Linked DNA regions of Homo sapiens. The protein of the gene in region 1 binds, or shares a complex with, the protein of each later gene. Links are inferred from orthologs where the notes say so. Each region holds a gene or a part of one and is shown in the gene's direction. Other genes may lie near its edges.

Region 1 (7,023 bases):
TTTTATTTTGAAGTAATCTGGGACTTAAAGAAAAGTTGCAAAAATAATTCAGAGAGTTCTAGCTACCCTTCTCCAAGCTTTCCCTAATGTTGACATCTAGCATAGCCATAGGACAGTGATCAACTGTAGAACAGCATGAAAAACAGGACAGGACTCTAACCTCGGTACACTGCTTCTAGACTTTTTTTTTTTTTTTTGAGACGGAGTTTCGCTCTTGTTGCCCAGGCTGGAGTGCAGTGGCGCGATCTCGGCTTACTGCAACCTCCACCTCCCAAGTTCAGGCGATTCTCCTGCCTCAGCCTCCCAAGTAGCTGGGATTACAGGCACCCACCACCATGCTGAGCTAATTTTTGTATTTTTTTAGTAGAGTCAGGGTTTGGTCAGGCTGGTCTTGAACTCCCAACCTCAGGTGATCTGCCCGTCTTGGTGTCCCAAAGTGCTGGGGATACAGGAGTAGGCCACCGCGCCCAGCCCAGACTTTTTTGTTTTTGTTTTTGAGACAGAGTCTTGATCTTGTTGCCCAGGCTGGCGCGATCTCGGCTCACCGCAACCTCTGCCTCCTAGATTCAAGCAATTCTCCTGCCTCAGCCTCCCAAGTAACTGAGATTACAGGCATATGCCACCATGCCCAGCTAATTTTTTTGTATTTTTAGTAGAGATGGGGTTTCTCCATGTTGGTCAGGCTGGTCTCGAACTCCCAACCTCAGGTGATCCGCCCATCTCGGCCTCCCAAAGTGCTGGGATTACAGGCATGAGCCAGCGCGCCCAGCTCAGACTTTTTTTTAAGATGATGTCTCACTCTGTTGCCCAGACTGGAGTGCAGTGGCACGATCTTGACTCACTGCAGCCTCCGCCTCCTGGTTTCAAGCGATTCTCTTGCATCAGCCTCCTGAGTAGCTGGGATTACAGGTGTCTGCCACCACGCTCAGATAATTTTTGTATTTGTAGTAGAGATGGGGTTTCACCATGTTGCCCAGGCTGATCTTGAACTCCTGGCCTCACATGATCTGCCCGCCTCAGCCAAAGTGCTGGGATTACTGGAGTGAGCCACCATACCCAGCTTTTTTTTTTTTCTTTTTTTCGAGACAGAGTCTTGCTTTGTCGCCCAGGCTGGAGAGCAGTGGCACAATCATAGCTCGCTGCAGCCTCGACCTCCCCAGGCTCAGGTGATCTTCCCACCTCAGCCTCCGGAATAGCTGGGACTACAGGTGTGTGCCACCATGACTGGCTAATTTTTGTATTTTTTGGAAGAGACGAGGCCTCACTATGTTGCCCAGGCTGGTCTTGAACTTCTGGGCTCCAGCAGTCCACCTGCCTTGGCCTCCCAATGTGCTCAGAATTACAGGCATGAGCCACCATGCCTGGTCAGACTTTTTCTGTATATATACAGATACAGTGTTGAGCTTTTTTCTTTTTTTTTTTTTTGGAGACAGTCTCACTCTGTCACCCAGGCTGGAGTGCAGTGGCACGATTTTGGTTCACTGTAACCTCTGCCTCCTGGGTTCAAGTGATGCTCATGCCTCAGCCTCCTGAGTAGCTGGGATTACAGGTACCTGCCACCATGCCTGGCAAATTTTTGCATTTTTAGTAGAGACGGGGTTTCACCATGTTGGCTAGGCTGCTCTCTAACTCCTGACTTCAAGTTATCCGCCTGCCTCAGCCTCCCAAAGATTACAGGCATGAGCCACCGTGCCTGGCCCAGATAAAATGTTTTTATTGGAAAATCGAATCATCACACTTACTGATCTGCAACCTCCATTTTTCACTTTGTGGTAGATCATGACCATGTTTACTTGTCAACATACCTATACAATTTCATCATTTGAAAAGAAAAACACCCCAAAATAGCCAGGCTTGGTGGTACGCACCTGTACTCCAGGCTACTTGGGAGGCCGAGGTGAAAGGATTGCCTGAGACCAGGAGTTCATGACCAGCCTGAGCAACATAATGTTACCCAGTCTCTAAAAAAAAAAAAAAATTTTAATTAACCAGTGTGGTGGTGCCTACCTGTAGTCCTGGCTACTTGGGAGATTGAGGCAGGAGGATGGCTTGAGCTGAGGAGTTCCAGGCTGCAGTGAGCTATGATTGCGCCTGCACTCCAGCCTGGGCCACAGAACAAAACCCTGTCTCTTAGAAAAAAAGAAAGATTGTTGGGCACGATGGCTCATGCCTGTAATCTGAGCACTTTGGGAGGCCGAGGCAGGTGGATGGATCATTTGAGGTCAGGGTTCGAGACCAACCTGGTCAACATGGTGAAACCCCATCTGTACTAAAAACACAAAAATTAGCCGGGCATGGTGGCATGTGTCTGTAATCCCAGCTACTTGGGAGGCTGAGACACGAGACTCGCTTGAGCCCAGGAGAGCTGAGATTGCACCACTGCACTCCAGCCTGGGCGACAGAGTGAGACTCTGTCTAAAAAAAAAAAGGAACAAACCAAGTCAGAAAGACAAACTCCCAATATGATGTAGTAGAGTTCCATTTGCCTATCATTTTCTAAAGTAAGTTAAATTTCTTCAAAATTTTGAAATGACTTTTTAATTTAGTGGCTGATGAATTTAGGGAATGGTGTGCATGTTTTTTCCCCCAAGATATGGGACAGGAGAGGAAATGATCAGCAGATTGAACATGTTTTGTGCAGAGATGAGCAACAGGCTGCTTGGAGGCATCAGAATTTCTCTGACCTTGGAGGGGGAAGCTGGGGACAGCCAGGTCCACCCACAGCAGGTCACTTGGGGCCTCTGTTGGCGGTAGACTCCCCAGCTCAGTGGACCTCTGGGCTGGCCCTGGACAACCCTTTCTGTGTGTGCTGGAAGGGTGGAGAGAGAGGAAGAAAATTCTGGCAGGTGGTGAAAGAGGCCTTTTCCCTCCCAATGTCTTTAGTCTTTGGTGTCGAACACAAGGTTCTGCCTTATTTTTTCTTAAATTAGTCCCATGTGGACAGATCACAGGAAGGAAAGAGAAGACTCTTCAATGCCATTGATATTTTTTTGCTTTTTATTTGGTACAAATGGCCATTCAGTCAGCCAAGTGAGCAAGTGTTTGAGAATCTCAAGAAACCAAATAAACAAAGCAGCTATATTTTGTCTTTTCTGGCAGACCACAAGGTCGTGTTTCTTTTGAGACAGAGTCTTGCTCTGTCACCCAGGCTGGAGTGCAGTGGTGCAGTCTTGGCTTACTGCAACCTCCGCCGCCTGGGTTCAAGTGATTCTCCTGCCTCAGCCTCCTGATTAGCTGGGACTACAGGTGCCCACCACCACACCTGGCTAATTTTTTGTATTTGTAGTAGAGACAGGGTTTCACCATGTTGGCCAGGCTGGTCTTGAACTCCTGACCTCAAGCAATCTGCCCACCTCACCCTCTCAACGTGGTGAGATTACAGGCATGAGCCACTGCACCCGGACGGTTAGGAATGTGTTTCTATAAGCAATGTCCATCGGAGCTTTACTTGTGGTGGTACATCCTTTGAGGTGGGCACCTGATGGGGCAGGGCAGGGCGAAGGGGAGATCAAAGGGTGCATTGCACTCAGTTCCTGCCCTGGAGATCCTCCAGCTGTAGTCAGAGGACAAAGGAAAATGCTTCTCTCAGCGAGAGCTAAGCAAATACACAGCAGTGGGATAAAGTTCTAAACGGGCACTCCCGAACTGTAACTGACAGAATTACAAGCAACTTACCGTGCGCCATGGCTCACACCTGCATTCCCAGCACTTTGGGAGGCCAAGGCAGACAGATCACTTGAGATCAGGAGTTCAAAACCAGTGTGGCCAACGTGGTGAAAACCCGTCTCTACTGAAAATACAAAAAAATTAACCAGGCATGGTGGCTTGCACCTGTAGTCGCAGCCAATCAGGAGGCTGAGGCAGGAGAATTGCTTGAACCCAGGAGGCAGAGGTTACAGTGAGCTGAGATCATGCCACTGTACTCTAGCCTGGGCAACAGAGCGAGAGTCCATCTCAAAAAAAAAAAAAAAGAAGAAGAAGAAGAATTAGAAGCAATTACAGGAAGATTGCTGTGGTTTAGTGGAGGGCAAACAGCTGAATGGGGACTGATGCAGACCCTAGCAATTGGCGTCGAGGAAAGAGAGACTCATTCAGTAGGTTTACTTCACGATGTGTAAGTGTGTAATGTAGAGCTGAGGTTGGAAAGAGTCCATCTGGGGTTTGGATAGTGTTATTCTTTTTTTTTTTTTTTTTTTTTTGAGATGGAGTTTCACTCTTGTTGCCCAGGCTGGAGTGCAATGACGCGATATCGGCTCACTGCAACCTCCGCCTCCCGGGTTCAAGCGATTCTCCTGCCTCAGCCTCCTGAGTAGCTGAGATTACAGGCATGAGCCACCATGCCCGGCTAATTTTGTATTTTTAGTAGAGACAGGGTTTCTCCATGTTGGTCAGGCTGGTCTTAAACTCCCGACCTCAGGGGATCCGCCCGCCTCAGCCTCCCAAAGTGCTGGGATTACAGGCATGAACCACTGCGCCTGGTCCTGGATAGTGTTATTCTTTAGTGTTTTTTTTAGAGATAGGATCTAGCTCTGTTGCTGAGGCCAGAGTGCAGTGGCACAATCACGGCTTGCTGCAGCTTCAACCTCCAGGGCTCAAGCAATCCTCCTGCCTCAGCCTCCTGAGTAGCTGAGACTACAGGTGCATGCCACCACCCTCAGCTAATTTTTAAATGTTTTATAGAGGTGGGATCTCACTGTGTTACCCAAGTGAGATCCTGGACTCAAGTGATCCTACCCCCTCAGCCTCCTGAGTAGCTGGGACTGCAGGTGTGCACCACCACACCTGGCTGTTGGTTTGTCTTTTTGTTCTGCCTGCCTTGGCAGAAATCTACTACATAGTAGGCATTCAGTAAATGCTCAAGTATTCTTAAGTGTGCTGGTTCTGGAGTTGGACGGGGTGCCAGCCTTGGTTCCTGGGCCTCTGTGTGCCTTAACGTTTTCACCTCTCTGGGAACTTGGGGCCCTTGGGTGTCAATTCTCGCATCTTTCCTTTCCTTTTAATTTAATTTAATTATTTATTTTTTTGAGATGGAATCTCACTCCCTTGCCCAGGCTGGAGTGCAGTGGCGCCATCTTGGCTCATTGCAACCTCAGCCCCCCGGATTCAAGCGATTCTCCTGCCTCAGCCTCCCAAGTAGCTGGGATTACAGGTGCCCACCACCATGCCCAGCTAACTTTTGCATTTTTAGTAGAGATGGGGTTTTGCCATATTGCCCTTTTATTTATTTATTTTAATTTAAATGTTTAATTTAAATGTTTTTTTGAGACAGGCTCTAGTTCTGTTGCCCAGGCTGGAGTGCAGTGGCACAGTCTGGACTCATTGCAATCTCTTCCTCTGGGCTCAAGTCATCCTCCCCCTTCAGCCTCCCAAGTATGTGGGACTGCAGGCATGCACCACCATGTTTGGCTAATTTTCGTACTTTTTAGACAGGGTTTCGCCATGTTGCCCAGGCTGGTCTTGAACTGCTGAGCTTAAGCAATCCACCTGCCTCGGCCTCCCAAAGTCCTGGGATTACAGGCTGGCATCTTTCCTTGCTGGTGGCAAAGGCCAATATTTTAATCATGGACAAAGATAATATTGAATTGCTCAAGGTACTTCTGTAAGGCAGGCATAACAGCAGCACCCTGCCTTGAGCTTTTATCTTAACACACACAAGTTCTTAGGACAGCATCTGGTGTGGAACTCACTAGAGTCAACCCTTATCATTTGTTCACTGAATGCATGATTAGGTTGGGGCCAGGCTTGGGGAAGTCTTACAAGCCAGCCACTATTGAAAGTTTTGATGTGGCTGGGCACGGTGGCTCATGTCTGTAATCCCAGCACTTTGGGAGGCCGAGGCGGGCGGATCATGAGGTCAAGAGATCGAGACCATCCTGGCCAACATGGTGAAACCCTGTCTCTACTAAAAATACAAAAATTAGCTGGGTGTGGTGGTGCGTGCCTGTGGTCTCAGCTACTCAGGAGGCTGAGGCAGGAGAATCACTTGAACCCGGGAGGCAGAGGTTGCGGTGAGCAGAGATCGTGCCATTGCACTCCAGCCTGGTGACAGAGCGAGACTCTGTCTCAAAAAAAAAAAAAAAAAGTTTCGATGTAAGGGAGTTTTCTTAATTCAAAAGATAGATTCTGGCGAGGCAAAGTGGTTCATGCCTGTAATTCCAGCACTTTGGGAGGCCGAGACAAGAGGATCACTTGAGCGCCAGAGTTCACGACCAGCCTGGGCAACATATGAGACCCTGTCTCAACAAAACAAAAGCAAAAGAAAACTTAGCCAGGCATGGTGGCACACACCTTTTGTCCCAGCTACTTGAGTGGCCTGAGGTGGGAGGATGGCTTGAGCCTATGAGGTCAAGACTGCAGTGATCCACAGTTGCACCACCTCACTCTAGCCTGGGAGACAAAGCCAGACCCTGTCTTAAAAAAAGAAAAAATATATATATAGTATATATAATACATAAATACATATATGTAAATACGTATGTATAAATACATATGTATGTATAAATACATATGTATAAATATATATATTTACATATTTGGCTGAGGCTGAATCCTGAGGTGGCGTGGCCTGGCTTTAGATCACATGGAACAACCTGGCAATATAATGGGATATATAATATATATAGTATATATTTAATAAATATATATCATATATAAATATATAATATAATACAAGGATATAATGTTTATAATATATTAATATATCATAAATATATAATTTAAATAATATATTTTATAATTATAAATATGCAATATGTAAATACATTATAATTATATATTTTATATGTATGTATATATTAAATATGAATATGTATGTATTTTATATATGATATATAATATATATTAATTTTTTTTTGAGACAGAGTCTCGCTCTGTCAACCAGGCTGGAGTGCAGTAGCGCAATCTCAGCTCACTGCAACTTCCGCCTACCAGGTTCAAGCGATTCTCCTGCCTCAGCCTCCCAAGTAGCTGGGACTATAGGTGGGTGCCACCATGCCCGGCTAATTTTTGTATTTTCAGTAGAGA
Region 2 (7,540 bases), on another chromosome or scaffold:
TTACTTTCAAAGCTCTGAAAGGCAAAGTACATTATCTGAAGCAGTTTGGTTTCATCAGTCTTGTCTTCTCTATTTTCTTCTTGGGGCTAAATTTCTTAAACTTAATACTACTGTTTTTACAACAATACAATATAGGTTTATTTATTTCAAAATGAATGAGGTAGGCCAGGTACAGTGGCTCACTTCTGTAATCCCAGCACTTTGGGAGACCGAGGTGGGCAGATCACCTGAGGTCAGGAGTTCAAGACCAGCCTGGCCATCATAGAGTGAAACCCTGTCTCTACTAAAAAAATACAAAAATTAGCTGGGCATGGTGGTGCATGCCTGTAGTCCCAGCTACTTGGGAAGCTGAGGCAGGATAATCGCTTGAACCTGGGAGGTGGAGGTTGCAGTGAGCCGAGATTGTGCCACTGCACTCCAGCCTGGGCGACAGAGCAAGTCTCTGTCTCTCAAAAAAACAAAAACAAAGGCTGGGCACGGTGTGGCTCACACCTGTAATCCCAGCACTTTGAGAGGCCTAGGCGGGCGGATCATGAGGTCAGGAGCTCAAGACCAGCCTGGCCAACATGGTGAAACACCGTCTCTACTAAAAACACAAAAATTAGCCAGGCGTGGTGGTGGGCGCTCGCTACTCGGGAGGGTGAGGCGGGAGAATTGCTTGAAACTGGAAGGTGGAGGTTGCAGTTAGCAGAGATCGCGCTGTTGCACTTCAGCCTGGGTGAAAGAGTGAAACTCTGTCTCAAAAAACAAAAACACACAAAACAAACGAGGTAAACATCAAAGTGAGACATGTAGACATGTGAAATATTAGTAAGTTTTGAAATGAGCAAATCCAACAGCCACTCTCACCACGCAATGAGCCCAGAAGCCATTTTAGATGGGGGTAAAGTGTTAAACTTGAACACACCCCAGTGTCAGAACATCCACAACTTCTATTTATTATAACTCTTGGATAGAGAGAACCCTAACCCCATCATTATAAAAAAACTTATATCCTCCATCATCTACACTGAATCTAATATAGCATCAACCATAAGATGTACTGTTATTTTGTATGCTGCCAAAAAGAAAGCAATGATACAAATGAAATTGTCACTGGGTTGATTTTGGGATGCCTCCCCATTTTAGTCAATATTTTTAAAGTTGCAGAACTGATAAGATAGGCAGGGATGGTCTGTTTTGTTCACTGCTATATTCCCAGTGCCAAGAATAGCGTACATAATAGTACACAGTTGGCACTCCATAAATGTTTGCTAAATATATGAATGAATGAATGAATTGGGACAAATAAGCTCTTATGGATGAAAGCCATGGAGAGTGATCATTTTATGACTGTGAGCACCCAACTTGAACAGTTAAAGCAAGAGCGCAACACTGTTACTTAAAGCAATACAAAGATTTCCAATTTATTTTTAAAATGACAAAGCTATCTATTGATGTTGCTGCAGAACAGCTCATGTTTCAGGAAGAGTGATAGCTCACATTTCCTTTATGATGCCTAAGACAAGATGCAGAAAAGTTGGAGCCTGTCATCGGGAGTCGAATGTCAGGCCAAGTTATTTCCAAACTTGTGCTGTAATTGTGATGGGGCATAGCTGTGGTGGAGACCTTGTGTTTTCTTGTCCCATTATCACTGTCCACGACGTTCATGCTGCGGAGTTATTTTCTGAAGGTCCACTGTACTCCATGCAATGTGGTGGTGAACAAGATATACAAGACAAGTCACTCTGGGTGTGATAGGCACTAACCAGACAGGACTCTGGAGCACTGGTGTAAACTGGTCTTAGGCCCCCGCATAACCTCTGCATTTGCAAATCCTGGGCTGGCTCACCAAAGGGTTTGAGCAAAAGGCTCTGTCTAGGCTGTCTTAGCACCGTAAGTATTGCCTCTGGTCTTCCACTCTTGTACAGGCCAAGACCTTTTACGGTTGCATGTACTCCCACTTCTGGCTAAGAAAACAGATGGAAGCTTACGGTGTTTCGGGAGAAGGATGACACATTGATAATTAAGAAGCAATGTAGCTAAGTGCTACAACAGAGACACAATGGATGTTTTAGAACCCTGGAGGAGTAGGGCAAGATGCTAGGCGAGGCTTTTTGAAGGAAGTGATACTGAACTGAATGCTGGCAGTGAAGAAGGTGTGGGATTCTTTGCAGAGTGAACAGGAGAAGCAAAGGCAGAGAGGTGAGAAATTGTGTGCTGTACACCAAGAACCATCACCGATTCTGTTGACGGAACATGAAGCAGTTACACGGGGCTTAGGCAGGAAGAGCACCTGAGGACAGATCATGACTTGCAGACACTGAATTTCAAAAAATATTGGTGATGTGGGATCAGATTTGTTTTAGGAAGATGACCCTGGGCTGGTCTGTGGAGGACAGATTCCTGGGGACACAAGTGAAGTTAAGGAGACCAGTTGGGGAATATGCGGGCGCAGAAGTTTCGGTGAGATACAAAGAGCCCACGGTCAAGAATTTATGTCATCAGGAGGTGAACGAGGGAGGACGGGGGTCCTCCCACTGGATGTGGGCCAGGGGAAGAGGATGAGGAATTCAGAGGAGTCCAGGACAATCCCGTGTGTCCGGCTGGAATCTGAATGGCTGGTGGGAACCAGCAACCAAAAGAAAAGAAAACAGGTGGCAGTGGAGCAGCAGCAGAGAACAGGATTTCGGGGAAAGAAAACAGAACTTTTTTTGGCATCCTGAGTGTGAGGTGCCAGGTAGAGAAGCCAGGCTAGCAAGGCACATCCGAGCTGCAAGTAGGAATGGGCTGGGACAACAATTTAGGTTTAGAAACCACCAGCATATATGGGGTACCTGGAACTGTGAGACTAAACAAAATCTCTTGGGGAGATTCTTAACAGAATCAAAGTCAGGAATTTTGGTCTTTATTCCTTTTTCTATCAGACTTCCCAGGAAAGTGTATTTTCTTTTTTTGGGTAGTCTGGTGATTTCTCTTAAAAATAAAACAAACTGAGAATGTCAGTGATGGGGGAGATAATATCTGTTCTTTTAAGCAGATTCTAAATGTATTAGTACCATCAGTAACTAAATAAAACTTTATCTTAAAACCTCTATTACACATTGTAGTTCATATTGTATGGGCTCACTCAAGAGTTTATAGAAAGTATTTTTGGATCAGGTAAATGAAATCATCCAACAGCAGTGCCGTTAAAATCTAAACTACAAAGCCCTGTGTGATCTGGCCACTGCCTACATCTCCAACTTCATCTCATAACACTCGCCCCCCCAACCCCAACTTATTGGTCTTTCAAACCACTCCTAGGGCACGTGAAGCTCTTTCCTGCCTCTGCATAGGCGGTTTCCGCTCATTTCTCTTCAGATCTGAGCTGATTATCAGCCCAGAGAGGCCTTCCCAGAACAGCCTATCAAGAAGAGCAACCTCCTTCCCTTTTTGCTATTATCTGGTTTTCTTTTTCCTTTTTTCTTTTCTTTTCTTTTTGAGACGGAGTTTCGCTCTTGTTGCCCAGGCCGGAGTGCAATGCTGCGATCTCGGCTCACCGCAACCTCCGCCTCCCAGGTTCAAGCGATTCTCCTGCCTCAGCCTCCCGAGTACTGAGATTACAGGCATGCGCCACCATGCCCGGCTAATTCTGTATTTTTAGTAGAGCCGGGGTTTCACCATGTTGGTCCGGCTGGTCTCGAACTCCCGACCTCAGGTGATCCGCCCGCCTCGGCTTCCCAGAGTGCTGGGATTACATGCGTGAGACACCGCGCCCGGCCTGCTACCTGGTTTTCATTTCCTTTACTACACTTACACAAGGTCTACTTTATTTGCCTGTTTGCCTCCTTGCTTTATTACTAATAGATCCTCGAGGGTAGTGATTTTGTCTGTCTTCTCTCCTGCAGCCCCGTCACGTAAAGGTGCTGGTCAAAGGAAGGCGGCAATCACCGACCGGACACCAGGGCAAATCAGGGCAGCCCAGTGATTCGAGATGCCGGCTGGGGAATCGGACCCATGTGGGTCTTTTCTCAGCTTCCCCGCTTACTGTGACTTTCATAAGTAACGGAACCCCCTCAACCCGTTTCCTTAAGTGTAAAAAGGCACTAGACACAGCAAGAAGCGGTTCCGGCAGCGCGGAAACCGAAGCACACGCTGGGTGTCACGACAACACGTGGAAGCCGCATTCCGTGCCGGGGCCCTGGCCCTAGCCCCAGCCCCGGCCCCCGGCCCGCCATGTGGCGCGGCTGACCGCGGCCGTGCGCCCACCTGTCTCCCTCTGCGTCTTCACGCTGATGTACTGGCGCAGCTTCTTCACCGCTCGGTCCCGGATGCCCTTCTCGCTGGACGCCAGCCGCTGGGCAAATTGGATCTCGGCCGGCTGCATGGCGGGGGCCATCGCGCCCGCTGGAGCATCCCCGGCCGCGCAACCCGCGGTGCCGCTGCAGCCAGCCGAGCGCTGCGGAGCAGCCAGCCACCGTCCGCCCGGGCCGCGACTGCACAGAAGGCGGCGGCGGCGGCGCGCGGGCTGATGGCGTCACAAAGGCGCCGCGGCTCGCAGCGCGCTCTGGGAGTGAGCGCGGCAGTGGCCCTGGCAGCTGGCGGAGCGGCCCAGCCCGTGTGCACGTGGCGCCGGCGCTGCCTTTCGGTTGCCAAAATTCAGGCTGTAGACGGCGAGGTTAGCCAGGGTTAGGACTTGACCAGGAAGAGACGGAAGGCTGTTTGTAAACGGTCTAGGATTTTTTGTTTGTTTTTGAGACAGGGTCTCCCTCTGTCGCCCAGGCTGGAATGCAGTGGCGCGATCTTGGCGGTGATCCTGGCTCACTGCAGCCTCGACCTCCCAGACTCGATCGATCCTCCCATCTCGACCGCCCAAGTAGCTGAGACTACAGGCGCGCGCCATCACGCCCCACTATTTGTTATTTTTTTGTAGAGACGGTGTCTCGCTATGTTGCCCAAGCTGGTCTCAAACTCCTGGGCTCAAGCAATCCTCCCGCGGCGGCCTCCCTGATCGCTGGGATTACAGGCTTGAGCCGCCGCGCCTGGCCACGGTCCAGGATCTTTAATCCCATTTAGCACACCTCGTTGAGCCAGCAGCTTACCTGCGATCTCCGTGGCGTGGAGTTTTTAACTGTGGAGCCCCCGGGCCCCCGGGTGGAGTTGAGACTGGAAGGAAAGGCCGGCACTGGGGCCTGTTGAGCGGGTGGAGGGCTCGCCTTCCTCCAGTGCCTGCAGAGGCTTGGGCAGATCGGTGCGCCCCTACCCCGGAGCCCTGGTGCCAGTGCAAGGGCGCCCGCGCAGGCGTCCCGAGGCCTGGCGAGCACGCGCGCTTCCAGGGGAGTTGGGCAGGGCGGGCTGCTTGCTAATTCCAGAGAGGGAAGAAATCTTAGCTTTGGGTTCATCTAAAACCCGAGGCCATCCTATATTTTGCGGACTCAGCGGGCGTGCTGGGGCAAGTTAATGGACTAGGTCACTCCACACGTAGCGGGGGTTATCTCAGTTGCTCCGCTCAGTTGTCTAGGCGACCTCCCGAGGTGCCTGTTGACACAAAAATTCAACCCTTAACGTAAAAGCGCCTGAATCCGAGCGAGGGAAGGCGCGCGGAGGCGAGGTTTCCAGCAAAGACTGCCCATTTGAACGCAGTCCCCCTTAGTGTAGCATTCCTCGCCAAACAGGAAAGGACCCATCCGATTTATTTTACTTGACACTTACATCAGGGGCTGACTTTCCTTCTGCTTTGCAGATAACAAGTTTAAAACCCCGGCTAAGCCAGAAGAGCCAAAGAGGGACCTCGCCAAGGCCACTCCTCGCTCTCTAGGCCGAGAATACTGCGCAAATTCTGGGAGGTTTGGGCCTGGCGGCTCTCCGTTCCCGACCCCCGGCGTGGATTCGTTCCCGCGCTTTCTGGCGTGAGGGGTCAGAGGGCGCGCCGACGCTCAGGCGAACGGAGCGGAGGCGGCAGCGGCCATGGGCGAAGCGGGCGCCGCTGAGGAGGCCTGCCGGGTTAGTGAGGAAGCCCTGGCCGACGCCAGCGTGTTTGAACCGTCGCCATTCGCTCCCCTCAGGGCCTCGCCCCGTGCGCTCGGAGACGGCTCGCTGTCGCGTGCTTGGGGGAAGCCTGGAGACTTCCTCCCCTAACGGCGTGGGCTGGGCCGGAGCGGGGTGGAGACCTGGGGCGGGAGGCGACTTCGCCTCCAAACCCACGCGGGGACCCGGTCTGTGAGGCTGCGCGTGGTGGGGGCACTCAGTGGCGCCAAAGCGGGCATGGGAGCGTGGGATGGATGGTCACTCTCTTCTCTGCTCCGTGGAAGCCCAGTTCCCCTCCGAAGGCCCTGGCCCCCTGCTTCGGGACTTAGCGTCAGGCTTAGAGAGAATCTGCCCTCCATCGATTTTATAACTGTAACTGATTGCATGCGATGGAGAAGGCGCTTGGACTGGGGCCAGATCCGTGTTCACATCCTGCTTCCACCCGTTATTAATTGTGCTGCATTGAGAGTCATCTAGCTCCCGTGCCTTAATTTCCATCTAGACAATCTTGGAGGCTTGGGGTGAATAGTAGATGAGATCACGGGCGGAGGGCTTGGCAAACCCAGTAGGAAACCAGATGACTTCCTTTTCCTCCTGATTAGTTTGGTGCTGCAGTGATAAAAAGTTGCAGGCGTTTTCTTTGACTTTTAGGAATAGAGCTCTTGTATGACTTTTCTTTTTCGTGGTCTTGCTCTGTTGCCCAGACTGGAGTGCAGTGGCACGATCATAGCTCACTGCAGCCTCCAACTCCTGAGCTCAAGCCTTCTTCCCGTGTCAGCCTGCTGCGTACAGGCGCCGGCCACCACACCTGGCTAATTTTTGTATTTTTAGTGAGATGGAGTTTCACCATACTGGTCAGGCTGGTCTTGAACTCCTGACCTCAGGTGATCCACCCGCCTCGGCCTCCCAAAGTGCTGGGATTACAGGCGTGAGCCACTGCGCCGGGCCTCCTGGGCACGTTTTCATATTTTTGTAGTGACAGGGTCTCTCCATGTTGCTCAGACTGGTCTTGAACTCCTGGCCTCCCAAATTCCTGGGATTTCAAGTGTGAGCCACCATGCCTGGCCTGTTTGTCCTTATTATTTTTAACATCTGGCTCCCTTTTTGAAGGCTGAAGCTTCAGCTTTCAAAATGTTTGTATGTACATAAAATATATCTATAGCAGAATATACAGTAGGTAGAGACATGATTTGAAACAACGATGCACATAAGAGGTGTGAAAGAAAAGCAAGTTAACTTGAGCTGTTGTTTTTTTTCTCATGTGAAGAGAAATATAATAAGATCTGCTTGTTCTTTTAGCACATGGGAACTAAAGAGGAATTTGTTAAAGTCAGAAAGAAGGATCTGGAACGGCTGACAACTGAAGTGATGCAAATACGGGACTTCTTACCCAGAATACTAAATGGGGAGGTGCTGGAGAGCTTCCAGAAATTAAAGATTGTAGAAAAAAGTGAGTCTTCATTTTCAGCAGTCATTGGTGGTAACAGTAATTTGTTCTAGCAGATTTACCCTAGGTAAATAATTGTAAACGAATTTTAAGGTACTCTTACAG

What was found.
Region 2: the proteins of BRME1 (region 1) and HSF2BP are in contact, whole or in part, in a crystal structure (PDB 7Z8Z), measured with the Mus musculus proteins. The link is inferred for Homo sapiens from one-to-one orthologs. Residues at the interface, in NP_083321.2 of Mus musculus: Met541, Gln542, Asp543, Ala544, Thr545, Val548, Arg549, Leu551, Val552, Leu555, Ser556, Asn559, Ile562, Met563, Thr565, His566, Leu569, Lys573; in NP_083178.1 of Mus musculus: Glu23, Phe24, Val25, Lys26, Val27, Arg28, Asp31, Leu32, Arg34, Leu35, Glu38, Val39, Gln41, Ile42, Phe45, Leu46, Arg48, Ile49, Glu53, Leu54.

The regions. Positions count from the first base shown.
Region 1 is NC_000019.10:13,896,100-13,903,122, reverse strand, and holds part of BRME1 (break repair meiotic recombinase recruitment factor 1), read left to right. Parts: intron 1-7,023. UniProt on the Homo sapiens protein: Meiotic recombination factor component of recombination bridges involved in meiotic double-strand break repair.
Region 2 is NC_000021.9:43,656,485-43,664,024, reverse strand, and holds the start of HSF2BP (heat shock factor 2-binding protein), read left to right. Parts: upstream 1-4,536; 5' UTR 4,537-4,639; exon of another isoform or gene 4,640-5,704; 5' UTR 5,705-5,928; coding exon 5,929-5,964; intron 5,965-7,287; coding exon 7,288-7,438; intron 7,439-7,540. Other genes in the region: RRP1B (ribosomal RNA processing protein 1 homolog B), read right to left, coding at 4,231-4,360. UniProt on the Homo sapiens protein: Meiotic recombination factor component of recombination bridges involved in meiotic double-strand break repair.